Regions from separate parts of the Homo sapiens genome. Here region 1 is linked to region 2. The links come from fine-mapping of genetic effects on gene expression. A gene starts in region 2. The other region holds a variant in brackets. All regions are shown on one strand. Distances are from middle to middle.

Region 1 (9,868 bases), 37 kb before region 2:
GGTAGCCACACTCACGATGCCAGGCCACTTGAAGATCAGACAGGGTCAGGCAAGAATGTGATCAGGACATAGCTGGTGCTTGGGCTTCTGGAGGCGGGCTACAGATTCTTCTGGAAAGACTCTCGAAAACTTGGGCACCCCTTCCCTGGGCCTGCCGAGTGCAGGCAGCTCAAGAACTAACAGAATGTGGGGCCCAGCCCCTTCCCCCAGCTTCAGCGGGTGCTTTTGGTCAGAGGAGGAAAGGCCTTAGCGGTGACCTCTTTCACCCTGGTGTCTGTTGTACCACAGGGGACCCGGGGCTAGAAAAGGGCTTGTCCAGAGTCCCACGGTAAAATCAGTTTCACAATCCCTGGAGCAGTGCTCATTCCCTGCGCCACAAAACCTGGTTGGGTTGGAACTTTAATCGTGTGCTACCTCCTCTGCCCCCTAGCCTGGGGTGCAGCTGCTTGAGTTCAGAAAACCACCCAGGTTCCTGGGGGAAGGGACGCTGGGGTCTGTGAGGAGCCTTATAAACCCACGCGTGTGTGTGCGTGTGGCGTGTGCACTGCTCATCTGCATCCCGTGATGCTGTCCGACTCGGTGGGGTCAGGAGATTCTTGCCCTCTTGCCCTGGGTGGTCCCTTCCCCTGCCAGCCGCCAGCCGCCAGCCTCCCCTCTGCCCTTACGCCCGCTGTGCTTCCAGATGTGGACGAGTGCAGCATGAGCAACGGGAGCTGTGACCAGGGCTGCGTCAACACCAAGGGCAGCTACGAGTGCGTCTGTCCCCCGGGGAGGCGGCTCCACTGGAACGGGAAGGATTGCGTGGGTAGGTGGCCGCCCTGTGCTGCTGGCCCCTCCCCTGCACCTGGGCTTGGATGGGAGGGACAGTGGCTTTTCTGAGGTGGGGGTGAGCAGGACAGCCCCTCCCTTTCCTCTAGGCCTTGCATTCCCAGGCAGAGGTTCTCTGCTGTTGGGGTATGGCTGATGGGAATGAGGACTTGCAGAAAAGGAGGGGGTCCCAGGCAGAGCATGCCAGTGTCAGCCAGAGGCACTGCAACAGGGACCTGAAGTGGGGAGGAGGGCACAGAGGAGATCTGCAGGTCCATGTGCAGCCCAGCCGTGGGGCACAGGGACCCTGCTGATGTCTCCATAGAGCTGGAAGCTTAGAGGGAGTGGGTGTGGAGGCCTCTCCTCTGGTAGCTTCCCCTTGTCTTGCTGAGGAGGCTGAGGGGGAGGAGGAGGGTCACTCGGGGTGCAGCAGCCTCAGTGGGGCACAGTTGCAGGGGATGTGGCAGTGCCTCCTGGAAAGCCCATGGTCCCTGCCCCCTCTGCAGGCATGCTCGCAGCACTGGGTGCCCCTAGGCTGAGTTCTGGACGGGCCCCTGCGTTCCCTGGTTCCCTGTACATGGGACCCTGTCTGGGTGCTGGGGCTGTGGGCCTGCCCTCCTGGAACCTCCACGCCGGGTCCTTGCCCCGCCACACTCTGACATCCCCAGGGCAGCCTAAGTGAGCCTTTTAAATGTAAGTTAGAACATCCCTCTGGGCTCAGAACCCCGCCCCCACCCCCACCCTCCGCCCCTTCCAACCCCGGTAACTCCTCCTTTGACTCTGAATCAAAGCCACAGCGCTTGGAATGGCCCGAAGGCTGCCGCCAGCTGACAGGATTGCCCTCTGCTGTCTCCCTCGCTTCACGCCAGCCTCACTGACTTCGCAGGGCCTCCACCAGCCCTCAGCCCGAGGCTGTGCGCTTCTCTTGGCCTGGAGGGCCCCCCCACACCAGCACTCCTCACTCCTCCCTTGCTGTGAGGGTCTGTGAGTGAGGCCTGCCCCATCACCCACCCAGAGCCGCAGCCTTGGCCACTTCCGCACCCATCTGGGCCCCCTGTGCTTCCAGCTTGCTTTCCCTCCCATCACACTCCCAGCCACCAGAAGTAATGTGCACTTTACAGGTTCGTGTTGGTGTATGTCTGTCTGTCTGTCCATCTCTCTCTCCTCACTAGAATGTAAGCTTTACACAGTTAAACAGGTCTTCTTGGCCTGTCCCATTTACTGCTAGAGCCCCAGCACCTGGAACAGACCCTGACAATCACAGACACAGAGTAAATATTTGTCAGTGAACACATTAACGAATACAAACCATCATTTAATATCTGAAATCCAAAGGCTGAGTTTATCACGTACTTGTGGAAGGACTTGCTGTGCTTTTCAGGCAAAGTCTCACTGAACAAAGTCAACTGCTGCTCTTCTGCTGAGTTTTGGGAAAGAGCTTGTTTGGGGTTGTACGGGTGGCGGAGGCAGCATGAGGGGATCTCCGTCTTACAAGCATAGGAAGGATATGGTACCTTCAGATTCTTTGCAGGAAAGCGTTGTTCATTGAGGGTGTTAGGGGGTCATTGCTCTGTGGTGAGCAGGTTTACGCAAACCTGCCTCCAAAGGGCAAGAAACTGAGTGGCAGAAGAAAGAGGCTGACACATTTAGTTTCTCAGAAAGAAACATTTGGCCGGGCACGGTGACTCACGCCTGTAATCCCAGCACTTTGAGAGGCTGAGGTGGGCAGATCACCAGATCACCTAATTTTTGTATTTTTAATAGAGACGAGGTTTCACCATGTTGGTCAGGCTGGTCTCGACCTCCTGACCTTGTGATCCACCCACCTCAGCCTCCCAAAGTGCCGGGATTGCAGGCGTGAGCCACCGAGCCCGGCCGCTTCTACTGCTCTTTACCATCTGTTGCTTTTGAACTTTTTCTTCCATCCAAGATCCTAACACTTAGGTGAACTCATTGTGATACAGATCTGATCATCCGGGACAATAACTATCCAGCGATATCCTGAATTCTTAAGCAAATGTTTGTCTGTCTCCTGGAGTTTAGGAAAATTTCCTTCAGCACTCAGCATAGCTCTAGACGTGGCTTTACATCCAGCATTAGAGATCTGATTTCTGGCTTTCCTGGGATAAACCCTAAGGGAGGAGTTGCTTGTGTAGGAGATGGAGGGGCAGGAGTGGGGGGGTGATGCGATAAGTGGCTGGTGAAGATGGAGCTGGGCAGAGAGAGTGGCAAGTGGATTTCGGAAGGTTTGAGTGGGAGGAAACTGAGGCCAAGGTATACCAGTGGCAGAAGCTATTAAATGATGAAATTTTGTCTCCTAACATTTTAGAGCTCCTCTTAAATATATTAATGTATTAGTTTTGATGTGTCAGAAGTTCCCACAATGACCAACGTTATTCTAAGCTGGTGGTGGTAGTTGTCGCTGTTTAGGTTTTGTGGTGAGTAGGGGGCAGTTTGCCATTTACCAGGACAAGCACAAGTTAGGATAATAGTCTAAATTCATAAGGCTGCAGGAGTTCAGCCAGGGAAGTTGCAGCCTTGGCATAACCAGCCCATGATCATCACTTTCATCAGTCAAAAGTGTGTGCTTAGCATGACGTTCCGGTTCCCCCAACCAGACACAGGCTGGAAAGGGCCGTGCAGTCAGTGACCTGACAGCTGTGACCCCAGAATATGGAGAAAACAAAGGGGCCTCCTTTCACGTGTTGGCAGAACAGGAGCGCCCTGAGGAAGATTTTAGAAGGGACCCAAGGAAAGCCCTGCCTAGTTGCCTACAGGAATTGGCCCCTAGTATCATAGACCTCTGACCATTGATCCTGGGGGCCAGCTTGGATTGAGTTGGAAGCATGCAGGGCCTGTGTCGCCATCTGGTCCCCAAGGAGCACCCTGTTATCTATCCATCAAACACAAGACAAGTCAGAGCACAACAAAACTCATGGGATAAACCTTTATCTAATAGTCAAGCAAAAGCAAAGTGCCCAGCAGCAGAACACACAGGTAAATGTGTGTCTCCGAACACAAGGTCTTGCTCCCCAGCCAGAGGCCCACTTGCTAACAAAGCAGTCAGCACGAGAGAGCAGCAAAGCAAGTGAGAGCTCAGAGTGTTGTCACACGGTGCCCTCGCAGAAAGCAATCAGCAGGACAGACAAAATGTGGGCCCCGGGGGTTGACCAAGGACACCTGTGGCCCACGGCACCCAAAGGACACTGGGAAGCAAGGGTTTCTAAAACAATCTTGGAGGAACCTCCAGAATTACCAAAGGATGAGATCAGCCACCGCTCAGTATCTGAAACCAGAAAGCTGAGCTGTCGCTTAAGTAAGGGGGAGCTGTGTTGGTCAGGCAGGCTCAGGGAGCAAAGCAAACTGCTGATCTTCCCTGGGGATTTGGGGCAAAGCTTATTCCAGGCAGGTTGGGATTAGGTTGATGGGAGTCTAGAAGCATGGCCTGTGTGGGTTACAGAAGGGAGGTGACTTGACTGAACCTGGAAGCCTGGTTACACTGGAGTAACTCCACATTGATGACTGACCAGAGTGCGAGGCTGTCACTCATGAGGTGGCTTTCAGAGGCGTGCCACATAAGCCGGTTGTCACCGACCAATTAGCCATCTGTAAAATCAGTTCTGGTATTTACCATGGCTGTAGAACCGTCCGTCTTTTCCTAGGAGTCCGGGGGACTTTTTCATCCTCTAAAGATAAGTAAGCAAGTGAGAAATTCTGGAGGGCTGTTTCTCCAGACACCTGATGGCTGTAGCAGAGGCTGCCCCAAAGAGGTGCTTCCGAGCGATCCCCCCCACGGCCCCTCCCAGGAAGCCAGTGTTCATTTAGCGCCGTTCCTTTCCCCAGTGGGAATGGACGCCTGCCCTGGAGAGCTCAGCCCTGCCCTCAGGGAGTTTCTGATCTGGGGATGGGGACATGAACCTTCTCACAGCCAGGATTAGAGCCTGAAGGGGAGGAGGGACTAAGCCAGCTGTCT[G/C]GGCCCAGCATCCCCACACGCCCAAGGGACCTGCGATCTCCAGGCGCCTTCCCACCAAGCCAGCCCAGCCATGGAAGAAGGGAGTTGGGGGAGTCCCCATTAGGCCATACCCAGGACCCTCCTGGCTCCAGGAAGCCTCCGCCCTGGCCTCTCTCAGCCCTCTCTCGTATCTCCCTTCATAGAGACAGGCAAGTGTCTTTCTCGCGCCAAGACCTCCCCCCGGGCCCAGCTGTCCTGCAGCAAGGCAGGCGGTGTGGAGAGCTGCTTCCTTTCCTGCCCGGCTCACACACTCTTCGTGCCAGGTAACCCGGGCCGTCCCTGAGATGGGATGCTGTGGCAGGGGGGTCTTCCTCCCTGGGGTCCCACCATTGCTCCCAGCTGTCCTCCAGGAAAGAGTCTGACCTAGGAATGAGGGTCTCTGATAACTGAGTGACCCTAAGGCAGCTGTCTGGTTTTCTGTGGGCCTCGCTGTCCTTCTCAGTAAACCCAGTGGGCTCCTTCCTCCTGGCCACTTCCCTGTGGTTGTGTAGCAGAAACTGGCAGAAGAATCTGTCCTGATCTTCGTCTCACTCCACAATCCCTCTGAGGCCCCAAGAATCTGAGGGCCGTGGGAGGGAGGAGCACCAGGCCCACCTCACCCACCGGCTTCTCTGCAGACTCGGAAAATAGCTACGTCCTGAGCTGCGGAGTTCCAGGGCCGCAGGGCAAGGCGCTGCAGAAACGCAACGGCACCAGCTCTGGCCTCGGGCCCAGCTGCTCAGGTAACCCCCCCGGCCTGTCCATGCTGCATGCCACTGGGTGACTTGACTGCATCCAGCAACATGCTGGCGGGGGAGGAAAGGGCACCGCCCAGGGAAGACCTTCCTGCTCTCGGCCCTGCTCCGTGTGGCCTGGGGTGCTGGCGATGAGCCAGGCCCAGGACCTAGAAGCCAGCAGGCTGCAGGCCGAGTTCTAGCCCAGGGTCAGGGGACCGTGGGAGGGCCCTTCCGGCTCTGAGGTCACAGCCAGAGTGGTTCAGGGACTCTAACGTGCTGTGAGTGCACAGATCTCAGACTGTATGGGTGGAGCAAGCCACATCTGCTGTGGCTATTAGGTTCTCCCGAGTCAGAGCTGGCCTGGCCGTGCAGAGCATGCCAAGAAGCGCCGAGGTGCAGCACAGTCCCAGCCCTTTGGGAGTGACCCGCTGGGCTTGGTCGGCATGGCACAGCCAGCCTTAGCTCCTGCCAGCTAAGGAGCTGAGGGTTGTGTCTTCAGCAGCTTTTCTTATTCAGGATGCTGGATTTGATAGATAGGTGCATTTCTGTATGTTTCTTTATTATTATTATTATTATTTTTAAAACGGAGTCTCGCTCTGTCACCCAGGCTGGAGTGCAGTGGCGTGATCTCGGCTCACTGCAACCTCCGCCTCCCAGGTTCAAGCAATTCTCCTGCCTCAGCCTCCTGAGTAGCTGGGATTACAGGTGCCCATCACCACACCTGGCTAATTTTTGTATTTTTAGTAGAGACATGGTTTCACCATGTTGGTCAGGCTAGTCTGGAACTCCTGACCTCAAGTGATCCGCCTGCCTCGGCCTCCCAGAGTGCTAGGATTACAGGCGTGAGCCACCGCACCCTGCCCATTTCTATATATTTAATGCATATGTGATTTGATTCTAAGCACCTGTGGTGGTAGGATTCTTTAGTCCAAGGGCTATGATTTGCTCTTGCAAGGAACCGGCAGTCCTGGATCTATAGTATTTCAAAGCCCCTTCCCTTCCTTGCTGTCCTATCTCTCTTCTGTTCTACGCTCTTTCCTAAAGCACAATCATGGCTTGCTGATGGGGAGGAGGTAGGAGGATCCCTGTCCTCCTTCTCAGAAGACCTCTGGCGGGTGGCCCCTGGGCTTGAGCTTGACCCCACCATCCATGTGTTCACCTGTTTTAGGCCTTGCAGGGAGAGAAATGGGGCAGGAGAGGGTCCCCCACCCCAGGAGAGCTGTCGGGGCACAGGGACTCAGATCAAGCCCCACCCCCAGCTCCAGATGGATTTGTCCCCTGGCAGCCCCCGTCCCCCACCACCTCCTTGCCTGCAGGAGAGGCCACCACCTGGGGGAATTTTGGCTTTCCCCAGATGCCCCCACCACCCCCATCAAACAGAAGGCCCGCTTCAAGATCCGAGATGCCAAGTGCCACCTCCGGCCCCACAGCCAGGCACGAGCAAAGGAGACCGCCAGGCAGCCGCTGCTGGGTGAGTGGGACGCCCTGCTCCTAACCCACACCAACGGGGCTGTAGGAGAGTCCTCATGCCTGGGAGCTGGGGCCCCAGGGTCCAGCGAGTCTGGTTTCCAAGGGTGGAGGTCTCTCTCACCTGGCAGCTGTTTATTGAATGAGAGTTTCCAAGGACATTGCAGGCTGGGGAAACAGCGGAGGGCAAGCTTGGTACGAGGGGCCCCGGAGGAAGGCACCAGCTCTGTCCCCGTGAAGATTCCTTCTCAAACCTAACAGAGCTCTCAGCACGCAGCAGGCTCTGCCCAGAGCCGAGTCTGCACTGGCCAAACCCTCAGCAGGCCCAGAGCTGGGGGCACAGCCTCATTCATGAATATGTATGAGATGCCTCCACCTGCAGCAGCGTGATGGACCGGGCGTGAGACCTGGCTCAGCCACCAGCCCCTCCTGAGACCCCGAGCCAGCCCTGACCTTCTCTAGCCTGAGTTTTTCCGTCTGCACCACGGACCAGGAAGTCCTTGCCAATGGCACTCTGTATGCAGGGCTTGGTAGGACCTTGCTCCCTGCCCCATGCCGCCTTTGCCACAGTGGTCCTTTCCTCGTCCAGACCACTGCCATGTGACTTTCGTGACCCTCAAGTGTGACTCCTCCAAGAAGAGGCGCCGTGGCCGCAAGTCCCCATCCAAGGAGGTGTCCCACATCACAGCAGAGTTTGAGATCGAGACAAAGATGGAAGAGGCCTCAGGTAGGTGAGGGGTTCTCCTGGGGGCTTCTGCAGGCCTGAAGGAGGACGACAGGCTGGTGGCGCTGCCGGGGGCCTGCCAGGCATGAAGCTAGGCTCCCACCAGAGCACAGCTGTGGCTGGGATGGGAGCCCAGCTTCTGGAGACAGAGGCAGGCCCACAAGCAAAGGGAGCTGGCAGGGGTCAACGCTTGCAGCCCAGGATAGAAGAGGCAGCCCAGGGCAATGAGACAGAAGAGCCGAGGTGACCTCAAAAGTCACATGACCCTTATCTGCCCCTCCACACTCCTGCTGGGACCCGGGAGGACAAATAGGTGCAGCCCCCCTAGAATGGTTGAGCCAAGGATTGTCTTTCCTGGTTCCTGAAGGAGGTTCTAATGCTGGCTCGGGTGTCACAGCAGCACTTTGCTCTTGGCTATATGTGAGTGTCAACCTGTGAGTCGTTGATGTTGAAGAGATGGGATCTGTCAGCAGATAAGTGTGGTATGGGCCTGGCTGTGGGCTTGGGCGCTGTGGAAAGAAAAGTCCCCACCCAGGTAACACTCTCAGCCAGAGAGGCAGACGCACGTGCAAACCACCCATTGCCAGGTGGGACTCTCGGTGGTGGGGGCACAAGAACAAACAATGCATAGAACTGAGGTCTGCCCCCCACGGGAGGGCTTAGGAAATGTCTTAGTCTGGCTGGGCACACTGGCTCACGCCTGTAATCCCAGCAGTCTGGGAGGGCCAAAGTGGGTGGATCACTTGAGTTCAGGAGTTCAAGACCAGCCTGGCCAACATGGTGAAACCCTGTCTCTACTAAAAATACAAAAATTAGCCAGGTGTGGTGGCAGGCACCTGTAATCCCAGCTACTCAGGAGGCTGAGGCAGGAGAATCGCTTGAACCTGGGAGGCAGAGATTGCAGTGAGCTGAGATCGCGCCACTGTGCTCCAGCCTGGCGACGAGTGAGACTCTATCTCAAAAAAAAAAAAAGGAAATGTTTTAGTCTATTTGCGTTGCTAAAAGGAACACCTGAGGCTGCATAATTTATCAGGAAAAGAGCTTATTGGCTCTCGGCTCTGCAGGCTGTCCGAGAACACGGCAGCAGCATCTGCCTGGCGAGGCCTTAGGCTGCTTCTGCTCACGGAGGAAGGTGAAGAGCAGCTGGCATCACATAGCAAGAGTAAGGGAGCAAGAGAGAGGGGAGGGGGTGCCTATGTCTTCACCAGTCACATCTCGTGGCGACTAGTAGAGCCAGCAAGAACTGACTACCACACCAGGCCATTCATGAGGGACCTACCCCATGACCCAGACACCTCCCACCAGGCCCCACCCCCAGCATTAGGGATCAGATTTCAACATGAGGTTTGGAAGAGACAAATATTGAAACCATATCAGGAAGCTTTCCCAGAAGAGGTGCCATTTGAATGAGAGCTTAGAATCAAAGCTCACTGGGTGGAAAAGGTGGCAAGGAATGGCATTCAGGCAGAGGGAATAGAATAGGCAAAGGCACAGAGGTCAGAGAGAGGAGGAGGTGTCCAGGAAGCAGTAAGTAGGGCCAGGTGGCTAGACATTGGAATCCACAGGGAGTGTCAGAGTGGAGGGGATGAGGCTGGCAAGGCCATACGGGGCTGGACCTTGAAGGGCCTTGGATTCAAGGCCAGAGAGCTGGACACTATCCTGGGGACAGTGGCAGTCCCCAAGAGTCTTTGAGTGACAGAAAGGCGTTCTTGCCCCGTGAGTCGTACCCTGGGGGGTGATGTGGTGCAGTGGCAGCTGCCTGGATTGCACTCAGATCTGCTGCGTGGCCGTGGGCAGGCCCTGCCTCCCAGGTCCGCAGCCTCCTCATCTGTCAGATGGGCATGACAGTGGCCCCTTGCCCCAGGACTGTTGTGAGAATGTGCTGAGGAGGTCCGAGCCCAGTGCAGGGCCTGGCACGGGGGAGCCCTCAGCTAAGAAGGCAGCGGCTAGCAAGGTTGCCAGCGATTCATGTTCTGTCTCTCCTGCCCCTGCAGACACATGCGAAGCGGACTGCTTGCGGAAGCGAGCAGAACAGAGCCTGCAGGCCGCCATCAAGACCCTGCGCAAGTCCATCGGCCGGCAGCAGTTCTATGTCCAGGTCTCAGGCACTGAGTACGAGGTAGCCCAGAGGCCAGCCAAGGC
Region 2 (9,868 bases):
CCTCCCCAGCCATTTCCCAAATAAGAGAGAACTCAAACCAAATTCAGGAGTTCTGTCCAAGAGAGACTTACCAGGTGGGAGAAGAGGTGACTCACAAAGGTAGAAGGGTGTCAGAGGGCCCCAGTGTGAGATTCTCCCCAAAGTGGTTCAGTGCTTGGTCCCACTGCTGACACCATGTATGTCAAAATCAAAAATGTAGAGACAGCTCTGTAAACTTAATGTGTGTAGTTTTTTGTTTTTTTGTTTGTTTTTTTGAGACAGGGCTTCACTGTGTTGCTCAGGCTGGAATGCAGTGACACAGTCATGGCTCACTGCAGCCTCAACCTCCAGGGCTCCAGCAATCCTCCCGCCTCAGCCTCCCGAATATCTGGGACTACAGGCACCCACGACCATACCTGGCTAATTTTTGTATTTTTTGTACAGATGGGGTTTCACTGTGTTGCTCAGGCTGATCTCAAACTCCTGGGCTCAACCAATCTGCCCACCTTGACCTCCCAAAGTGTTGGGATTACAGGCATGAACTACCATGCCTGGCCTAAATGTAATGTTTTATTTGTGAAGAAGGAACTGCCATTCAGGGTGCACCTACAGACCAGGTGGTCTTTGCTTTGTCCGAAGAACAAAGAGAAGGTTAGAAGTTTTATTTAAAACAGAGAAATGGGCCAGGCACAGTTGCTCATGCCTACAATCCCAGTGCTCTGGGCTAAGGCAGAAGGATCACTTGAGGCCAGGAGTTTGAGACCAGCCTAAGCAACACAATGAGACCCCTGTCTCCACAGAAAACTTAAAAATTAGCCAGGCATAGTGGCACATGCTTGTAGTCCTAGCTACTCAGGAGGCTGAGGTGGGAGGATTGCTTGAGCCCAGGAGTTCAAGGCTGCAGTGAGCTATGATTGCGTCACTGGCCACTGCACTCTAGCCTGGGCAACAAAGTGAGACCCTTCCTCAAAAAGAAAAAAAAGAAGAAGAAATGTTACATATTGCTCTTTGAGAAAGTTCACTGGTACTTGTAAGGGTTTGGGGAGTTAGTAAGCTCAGCTTGGTGAGCCTTATTAGTCCTAGAGTTGCAGTCAGTTATCTCAGAAGTTATCAATAAATGGTTTTAGGTTACCACAAGCAGTTTCAGCAGTCGGGCTTACAGAGAATTACATTTTGGGAACAATGCCTTGCACCCCAAATGCTTTTTCCCTCTTGGCTTCTCAACTCTGTTTTAATTATGACAAGAATGACCCAATTTTTTTTTTTTTTTTTTTTTTTTGTGAGTTGGAGTCTCACTCTGTGGCCCAGGCTGGAGTGCAGTGGTACGATCTCGGCTCACTGAAACCTCTGCCACCAGGGATCAAGCAATTCTCCTGCCTCAGCCTTCCAAGTAGCTGGGGTTACAGGCACCGCACCAAGGCTAATTTTTGTAGTTTTAGCAGAGACGGGGGTTTCACCATCTTGGCCAGGCTGGTCTTGAACTCCTGACCTAGTGATCTACCCACCTCGGCCTCCCAAAGTGCTGAGATTACAGGGGTGAGCAACCACGCCTGGTGACCCAATTCTTATGATCAACTTTCACAAAGTCATTGTATTGGGTTTAGGCTCCATGTTGTATGAAAAACCCATTTTGTATGAGTACCCTTGGCAAAGCTCTCAGAACAAAAAGCTATCAGGGACCAAAGGTCAACCTGGGCTTGGATTTTCAGGATGGAAGGGCCTTTTTTATTTTTAGACGGAGTTTCCCCCAGGCTGGAGTGAGTTGATGCGATCTTGGCTCACTGCAACCTCCATACCCCCACCCCTGGGTTCAAGCAATTCTCCTGCCTCAGCCTCCTGAGTAGCTGGGATTGTAGGTGCCCACCACCATGCTCGGCTAAATTTTGTATTTTTAGTAGAGATGGGGTTTCACCATGTTGGTCAACCTGGTTTCGAACTCCTGATCTCAGGTGATCCACCCGCCTTGGCCTCCCAAAGTGCTAGGATTACAGGCATGAGCCACTGTGCCCGGCTATGGAAGGGACTTTTAAACTCTTTTTTTTTTCCCTGTTTCTCTCTCTCCTTTTTTTCAATTGTCTGGAGGGGGAGGGGGTTGGTGGCAGTAATGGGAGCAGAGCAGTAATTTTATGTTGATTAAATACACATTCTTCAGTGCCTCTTTAGAAGACAACATTTCAGCTGAGAAGAATGAGTCAGGATTTACAAAGTGAGCATGGGGAGAAAGGCTTTCTGGCAGAAAACAGAGCACAATGCTTTCCAGGAGCTGAAGACAACCAGAGATACAGGGACTCACAGTGTGAGGGGAAGAGTGTAATGAAAAGAGGCTGGAAAAGTTGGCAGTGCCAGCTCACACAGAGCCTTGGAGCTCAGGTGAAGAGTTGAACCACAAAGGGTTCCAAGTAGGGATCTGATACAACTGGGTTTACATTTGGGGAGGAGCATGTGAAAGAGGACTGCCCTGTCAGAGCCTCACATTCTCCTGGTCAAAGGGGCTGGGTCAGGAATGTTCACATAATCTGACCAGTACCTGACACAACTGAGACTCAGTCTGTCTTCCCCAGCGGGACCGATGGAAGGGTTGTGGAAGCGGGAGGTGCACTAGGTGTGTACCACTATACCTGGCTAATTAAAAATTTCTTTTTGTAGGGTCGAGGTCTTGCTTTGTTGCCCAGCCTGGTCTCAAACTCCTTATTTCAAGTGATCCTCCTGTCTTGGCCTCCCAAAGTGCTGGAATTACAGGTGTGAGCCAGCATGCCCCATCCTAGCATTGTGATGCTGTTTTACTATATTATTTATTTTGAGATGGAGTCTCGCTATGTTGACCAGGTTGGAGTGCAATGGTACAATCTCAGCCTTGGCTTCCACAACAAAAACCGAGGAATCAGGGTTTTCCTCTGGCCATGGTGAAACCCTGTCTCTACTGAATACAAAAAATTAGCCAGGCGTGGTGGCACACACCTGTAGCCCCAGCTACTTGGGAGGCTGAGGCAGGAGAATCACTTGAACCCGGGAGGCAGAGGTTGCAGTGAACCGAGACTGCACCATTGCACTCCAGCCTGGGCAACAAGAGCAAAACTCCATCCCAAAATAAATAAATAAATAAAATGTTTTTCTCTGCAGCCCTCACCAACTTGAGTTTGGAAATTTTTGCCTTTGCAGACCCACCTGCTTCCTACAATGGAATTGAACAAGTCCGTGAATTGGTGCATTTTATTCAAACTCAGTTCAAAAATGTTATCAAAATAGCATCTGAAGCTCCAAAAAATTTTCAGCCTTTGTTTTTTAGCAAATTACAATTCTTACAAAATTGCAAAAAGGAAGACATTGAAATGTATCCCTATGGAGCAATAAAACTCAATGAGAGTTCAAAAGAGAATGTCTTTTGAAATTCTATAACTGAACTGTTTTCTTTTAAAGAGGGAGTCTGGCTATGTTGCCGAGGCTGGACTTGAATTCTTGGGCTCAAGCTATCCTCCCGCCTCAGCCTCCCGAGTAACTGGGACTACAGACGCGGCCACCACGCCCAGCTCAACTGCACTTCGAAACATCCCGACATGTAGGAGTAAATTCCTCTGACGGGTACACTTGGTCTTAATTGGATCAACTGACATTCCGAATCCAAATATAAGTAATTGAGAAGGGCCACGATTTTGCAGCATCCAAATCTGGTGAAACGCTCACAAGAATCGAGAGCTCCCAAGGCAGGGGGCCTGCGAGCTCTGTGTGCCCGGTGCAGGCACAGAAGCGCCGCCTCACCGGGTTCGGGCCCCAGGACACCTTCCGGGCCGTCGGTGGGGCCTTTTCCGGTCCTGACAGCGCCCTATACGTAGGCACCCCGCCCTCCCGGCATTCCCCGGGGTCGCCGCGCGCTGAGCGAGAAAAGCTCAGCCACCATCAGGTGCGCGTGCGCACACGGCGGCAGCCAAACCACAGGCGCGGTCGCAGACGCGCGCCCCCTCCTGGCAAGCTCGCGCGCTCTCGCACGCACCCCGCCGATGCGCAGGGCCTGCCCGGGGGCCGCGGCAAACCGGGCTGGAGGCGGACTGGGGGCGGGGCGGGACGGGGTGAGGGGGCGAGAAGAGGGCGGGGCAGGGGAGGGGTCGGGGGGGCCGGGAGGAGGACGGGGCGGTGGGGAGGGGGGCAGGGGGCGGGGGCAGGGGGCGCGGCAGGGGCGGGGGGCTGGGGGGAGGACGGGGCGGTGGGCGGGGGGCTGGGAGGAGGACGGGGCGGGGGTGCTGGGAGGCGGGCGGGGCGGGGGGCGGAGGCGGGGGGGGCTGGGAGGAGGGCGGGGCGGGGGGGGGCTGGGAGGAGGGCGGGGCGGGGGGGGGCTGGGAGGAGGGCGGGGCGGGGGGGGGGGCGCTGGGAGGAGGGCGGGGCGGGGCAGGGGGCGGAGGCGGGAGGGCAGGGCCGACGGACGGCGGGCGGCGGCGGCGGTGGCGGCGCTGGAGTCGGCGCGGGTGCTGGCGCCATGGAGGCCGAGCGGGGTCCCGAGCGCCGGCCTGCGGAGCGTAGCAGCCCGGGCCAGACGCCGGAGGAGGGCGCGCAGGCCTTGGCCGAGTTCGCGGCGCTGCACGGCCCGGCGCTGCGCGCTTCGGGGGTCCCCGAACGTTACTGGGGCCGCCTCCTGCACAAGCTGGAGCACGAGGTGCGGGGAAGGGCGGCGGGCACGTGCGGCGGCCGGGGTGGGAGCGCGGCGGGAGCCCGCGGCGCGGGACAGGGAAGAGCGCTCCCGGGCGGCGGGAGCCGCGGTGAGCCACCCAGAGCGCGTCCTGGGCAGCTCTGGAGCGGCGTGGAGTTGGGGGCCGAAGAGTGACAGCAGGAGACCGGGGTACCTGCGGCCCTGATCTGCCCGGGCCCGAGACCGGCTGAGGGCTGCGTTGGGAACTTTAGGTCCTCCACACACCCGAGCCTGACACAGCCCTGCGAGGAGTGAAACTCATCACCCCCACTTCACAGATGAGAACACTGCGGCTCCGAGAGTCCCTTCAGAGGGATTCTTTCAGCCGCTGCCTCACAGGGACAACGGGAACCCCGTGAATTTGTGTAGCTGTAACTGTTGGGTTCACAGAATTCGGTGTTTTTTCATTTGATTTGAGCCTCGGGGTCCCCTCATCTTGCAGGTTAAAGAAAACAGGCTGTGAGAGGTGGAGGAGAAATCTAAAGAAAAATGGAAAAGATTGAGAAGCCTCTAGGTTCTCTCCCTTTTTGTGAGGACGGCCCATCCGGCTCACCTGCCTCCTCCACTCCAAAGCGTTCCCCACTGTCCTGGCTGGGGATGAGCCCTGGATTTTTATTGCGTGCCCAGAGGCTGAGGCCACAGCACCTTCCCGGGCTGGCGGGGGGGGGGGTGTTTTCTTTAGCTGGGACCCGACATCTCCTCCAGGTGCTGTCTCCCGGACGGAGATGAGCCTAGTGGCGCAGGTGATGAAGTGGAAACCCCAGAGCCAAGAACAGGGACCCGGGCCGGGAACTAGGAGTCCCTGAGCCTGGCTGCTGGCCAGACTCTACGGTCTCTGAGCCAGTTTTTCTCTGTGTAATCCTGATTGGACTAGGAACCTTCCTGCTGGAAACGTGCAGTGAGTGGCACCTCCTTATGCTACAGTGTAACAGAGAGTTTCCTCTGCCCCTCACTTCTGCCATATGCTTTCCGAGGACCACTCTGGTCCCAGGCCTGTGCTGGGTGGAAGGGACCTTGGTTTGTTCATGAGGACAAAAAGGTTCCCATGGGCTGCGTGGAAGGAGCACAGTGGGAATGACCAGCTCCTGCCCAGCCAGCCTCCACGGCAGCACGCCCTCCCTCGGGCGGTCACTCGCCCGTCTGAGACCTGTTCTCCATCTGGGAAGGGGATGGTGAGACACCATCTGGCTCCCACAGTATTGGAAGGATGGGAGGTGGCATGAGAAATATGCCTGGCACACAGAGGGTGGTCGCCACCGTGCCACGTCCCCTGCCCAGGCCGCCTTGCCTGCTGTTGCCCTACTAAGGGGCAGCCAGTGTTTTTCCGTGACCCTTCCCCAGCCGTTAAGGACAGAGCTGAATCACTGCTTTACCATTCACAAACTTGCAGCTCTTCCTGAGTGAAGCCTCCTGCTGCTACTGGCCCAGGTGTGGAGGAGGCCGCCAGCAGCAGCAGCACCTGCCAGCGCTGTGGGCCCTTACACCCCTGGCCATCAGCCCTCCTGCCTCACCTTAGGCCGGCTGCCCTGGAAAGGATGGGGAAACTTGAAGATACATACATATATATATATATATATATATATATATATATATATATATATATATATATATAATTTTTTTCTTTTTTTAATTGAGACGGAGTCTTGCTCTGTCACACAGGCTGGAGTGCAGTGGCATGATCTCGGCTCACTGCAAGCTCTGCCTCCCGGGTTCAAATGATTCTCCTGCCTCAGCCTCCCGAGTAGCTGGGATTACAGACGTGCGCCACCACACCCAGCTAATTTTTGTATTTTTAGTAGAGATGGGGCTTCACCATGTTGGTCAGGCTGATCTCGAATTCCTGACCTCGTGATCCGCCCGCTTTGGCCTCCCGAAGTGTTGGGATTACAGACGTGAGCCGCCACGGCCGGCCGAAGAGATGTTTTTAAAATGTCTACTCTTCTGTCTGCACAAGCTTCCCAGTTGCAAAACCACTCCCCTTATCTCCTGGGGAGCTCTTCCAGTCCTGCCATGAAGGGGTTGTGGTGAAGGAGAAACCCAGCACCCCATTTCACAGCTGGGTTGAATCCAGGCCAGGCTTGAGACAGGCTCTCTGACCCTCAGCCTCACGCTGTCCCCTAGGGATTTGGAGTACTGGGGCGGAAGCCCGAGGTCTGGATTCCAGCCCTCTGAGCCTCCCCCCAGCCCTAAACTGGAGAAGGCAGTAGCCTCCCCAGACCCACCTTGAGGGCTAAAGGAGAACTGGATGGCTCTTGTCTCAGGTGCCTTGTCTCTCATGTGACCCCTGGTTTGCTCCACCCTGGGCTATCTGCCTCCAGGCCTTCGCTCTTACTCTTCCCTCTGCGTGGAGTTCCTTTCCATCCTCACCCCGTAGCCTCATGTTTAAATCTTCCCCTTCTTCAAAGCTGGCCTCTGGTTATGGTTCCTCATCCATAAAGTCTTCCCAGGCCCTCCAGGCCCCAGAGCAATTTACCTGATACTCTTAGGTGGCCTAGACCTTACTCAGCCTGAGCTTCCTGAGCGAGACCTTGAGTGATTCATCCTCACGCCACCAAAGGGCAAGTCCTGCCCAGTGCACAAAAGCTGCCTGCACCTGAGTACTTAGCTAGTTTCCAACTGCCGTTTTTAATCGAGTAGTGGGAAATACGTTTTAGGGAGGAACTGGCCTTTGTTGAGCCTCCACTGTGCGCCAGGACTTTATGCACGCTGTTTGATTTCATTCCATCAGTGTCCTGAAAGGTGGATGACACCCCCTCTCACAAGTGAAGAAACAGTCTCAGAAGTGTAACAATGGCGCCACGTGTTTATAGAGCATTTGCTGTGGCCAGGCTCCACTCTGAGTTCTGGGTATGAATCACCTAATCCTCCCAGTAGCCCTCAGAGGGAGGTTCTGTTATTCCCATTGTGTGGATGAGGAAACACGCATGGGATAGTTAAGTAACTTGTTCAAGGTCACTTGTCTAGGAAGTGGTGAAACCAAGATTTGAACCCACACAGCCTGGCTCCAGAATCTGCCCAGAAGCCCCCCTTGCCGGCTTGTGGCAGACAGGGCGTGAGTGTGGCTGTGCCAGGGACCCCTCTGCTCCACACACACCAGAAGAGGTCACTTGCCTGCTTGACTAGCCGCACAAGGCAGGACCAAGGCCCTTATCTCCCCATCCCACCTTGACCTGGGGCCTCGCTTCCTGTTGGCCTGGATTGGGTGGGGCTGGGCTGGAGGAGGCTTCTCTGTGAGTTGACTCAGCTGTCCTAGTGTTGAGGGGTTCTTCTGGTGAGGGGGGCATTGGGGTGTGCCCCCAGCCACCAAGATCCTGACTCTTCCATTGACCTCCAGTGTAATTGGAGCCACCCTCTCTGCCTTTGGGGCCTCTCTTTCTGTGTAATGTGAGTGGGGTGGACTACAGATACCTCCAGCAAGTCCTCAAGGTCCCATCTCCATGCACAGCATCCTGTGGGACGAGGCTCTGGATGACAGCTCAGGTGACGGTGGGGTACATTAGGTCCCTGTTCCGAGCCTGAAATCTCCAGGAGCTTCAGTCTCCCCGCCCGTAAGACTGTGTGGTTGCATTAAACAGGTCCCACACCTCTGAAGGAGACAAGTTTGTCCTTGAGGCCTGGGTGTGGCACCTCGGGTGGCTTTCTGGAGTGGTGAAGGCATTGGGGTGGGGTCTCCTGCCCACACCCCTGCTGACGGGAACTCTGGCCCCCAGGTTTTCGACGCTGGGGAAGTGTTTGGGATCATGCAAGTGGAGGAGGTAGAAGAGGAGGAGGACGAGGCAGCCCGGGAGGTGCGGAAGCAGCAGCCCAACCCGGGGAACGAGCTGTGCTACAAGGTCATCGTGACCAGGGAGAGCGGGCTCCAGGCAGCCCACCCCAACAGGTAGGAGCCTGGCCAGAGACACCACCACAACCTTCACTTGGTGAAAGGTGGGAGATGCAGTAATGCAGATTCTCCTGGGCCCTGCACCGCCGCTGGACATCTTCCTTAGGACAGCTTTGTGGCAAGCACGTGTGGCCAGCGGTGTGTCCATCAGGGCTTCAGAGTACTGTCCGTGGCAACACAGCGTTCCTGGGGTGACCGGATGGACCGCGGCCTGAGAGCCTCTCCCAGCGGTCTCATTGTCACAGTGGTCCTGCTACAGGGGATTAGAAGTTCCAGTTTTGCTCGAGGTCACCCTCCAGGTTAAGGGTGCAGGTCAGCCTTACTCCTCCCCAGTCACAGCCCCTCTCTGGTCCTGCTAAATTGGAATCTGGGGTGGGCCCTGGAACACCTGAGGACCTGAGACCCAGAGCAGGCCTGGCCTTGCCAAGGACCACGGTGTAGTTAGGGCAGAGCTGAGACTGTACCCCAGGCTTCCTGCCCCCAGGGACCAAGAGTGGCTATCCCTAGGTCAGGCCTGCAGGCCCATCTGCCAAAGGTTTTGTGGACCCTCAGAGAAACTTGCTGGGCCCCTGTGTCCACGCACAGCTCTTTGGGCAGGGGTCTGGTCTCTTCTGCAGAGCTTCTCCCGCCTCCTCCTCCAGCTGGGAGTGGGCAGTAGCAAGCCACCCCGGAAATACGGACAGCCCAGCACCCCCGCCCATGCGTGCTTGGGCTCACCGTCCCCTTCAGGTTCAGTGAAGTGAGTTCTCCTGTGCGGCTCAGGCCCAGGAACAGGTGAATTCAGTGCAGTGGCTGCCCTGGGAGCTCCCAGCTCATGTTCTCTCTCGGGCCTACAACCACATACCCCGCTGCCAGCCTTGTTTTGGGTGGTGGGGAGGCTAGGGATCCAGAGTCTTGGATTTGGAGCCTGAGTGTTTGTTTCAGCCCCACCTGCTTCCGGGCCTTTCTGCTTCCGGGCCTTTCTGCTTCCGGGCCTTCATCCCCCTGAGTCTCCCCTGATTGCCAGGCCCTAACAAGCTCTCCATCCTCATCCCCATAGCTATCTTTGTACAACACCCCTTGTTGCACTTGCCCAGGGTCACCCCGAAGGCCTGGCTCTGCCCTGCATCACGTGGTCACCCACTCTAACACAAGTGCAAGAGTAAACCCACTTATTTTAGGACAGGCCAACAAAACTCATATAAGCACAATAAGATAAATACTCCTGAACTTGCCCCCCAGCCTAAGAACTGGAACACTGGCTGTCCCTTTCATTTTAAAAGGGGAACAGAGACGGGGGCAAGCTGGGGGCGGCTTTGTCTATTAGGCACCTGTGTGTTTGGTGCCTC

Evidence for each region. PIP is the estimated chance that this variant, and not a neighbour inherited with it, causes the effect.
Region 1: its variant is fine-mapped to the expression of TTLL12 in whole blood (INTERVAL, PIP 0.98).

The regions. Positions count from the first base shown.
Region 1 is chr22:43,218,311-43,228,178 of GRCh38, reverse strand. It overlaps SCUBE1 (signal peptide, CUB domain and EGF like domain containing 1), which reads left to right. Exons shown (of 22, transcript NM_173050.5): 10 at 683-805; 11 at 4,963-5,082; 12 at 5,437-5,541; 13 at 6,890-7,006; 14 at 7,592-7,729; 15 at 9,721-9,868. Among named protein-coding and RNA genes, the nearest start is that of SCUBE1-AS2, 11 kb to the right of the region's middle. RefSeq lists enhancers at 1,181-1,746, 1,747-2,313, 7,431-7,932 and a silencer at 2,934-3,099. The variant G/C (reference allele first, on the strand shown) is at 4,781.
Region 2 is chr22:43,181,649-43,191,516 of GRCh38, reverse strand. It overlaps TTLL12 (tubulin tyrosine ligase like 12), which reads left to right and starts at 4,383. Exons shown (of 14, transcript NM_015140.4): 1 at 4,383-4,624; 2 at 8,368-8,537. The coding sequence starts at 4,448. RefSeq lists silencers at 3,970-4,089, 4,338-4,497, 4,538-4,757 and enhancers at 5,138-5,197, 5,208-5,287, 5,228-5,732.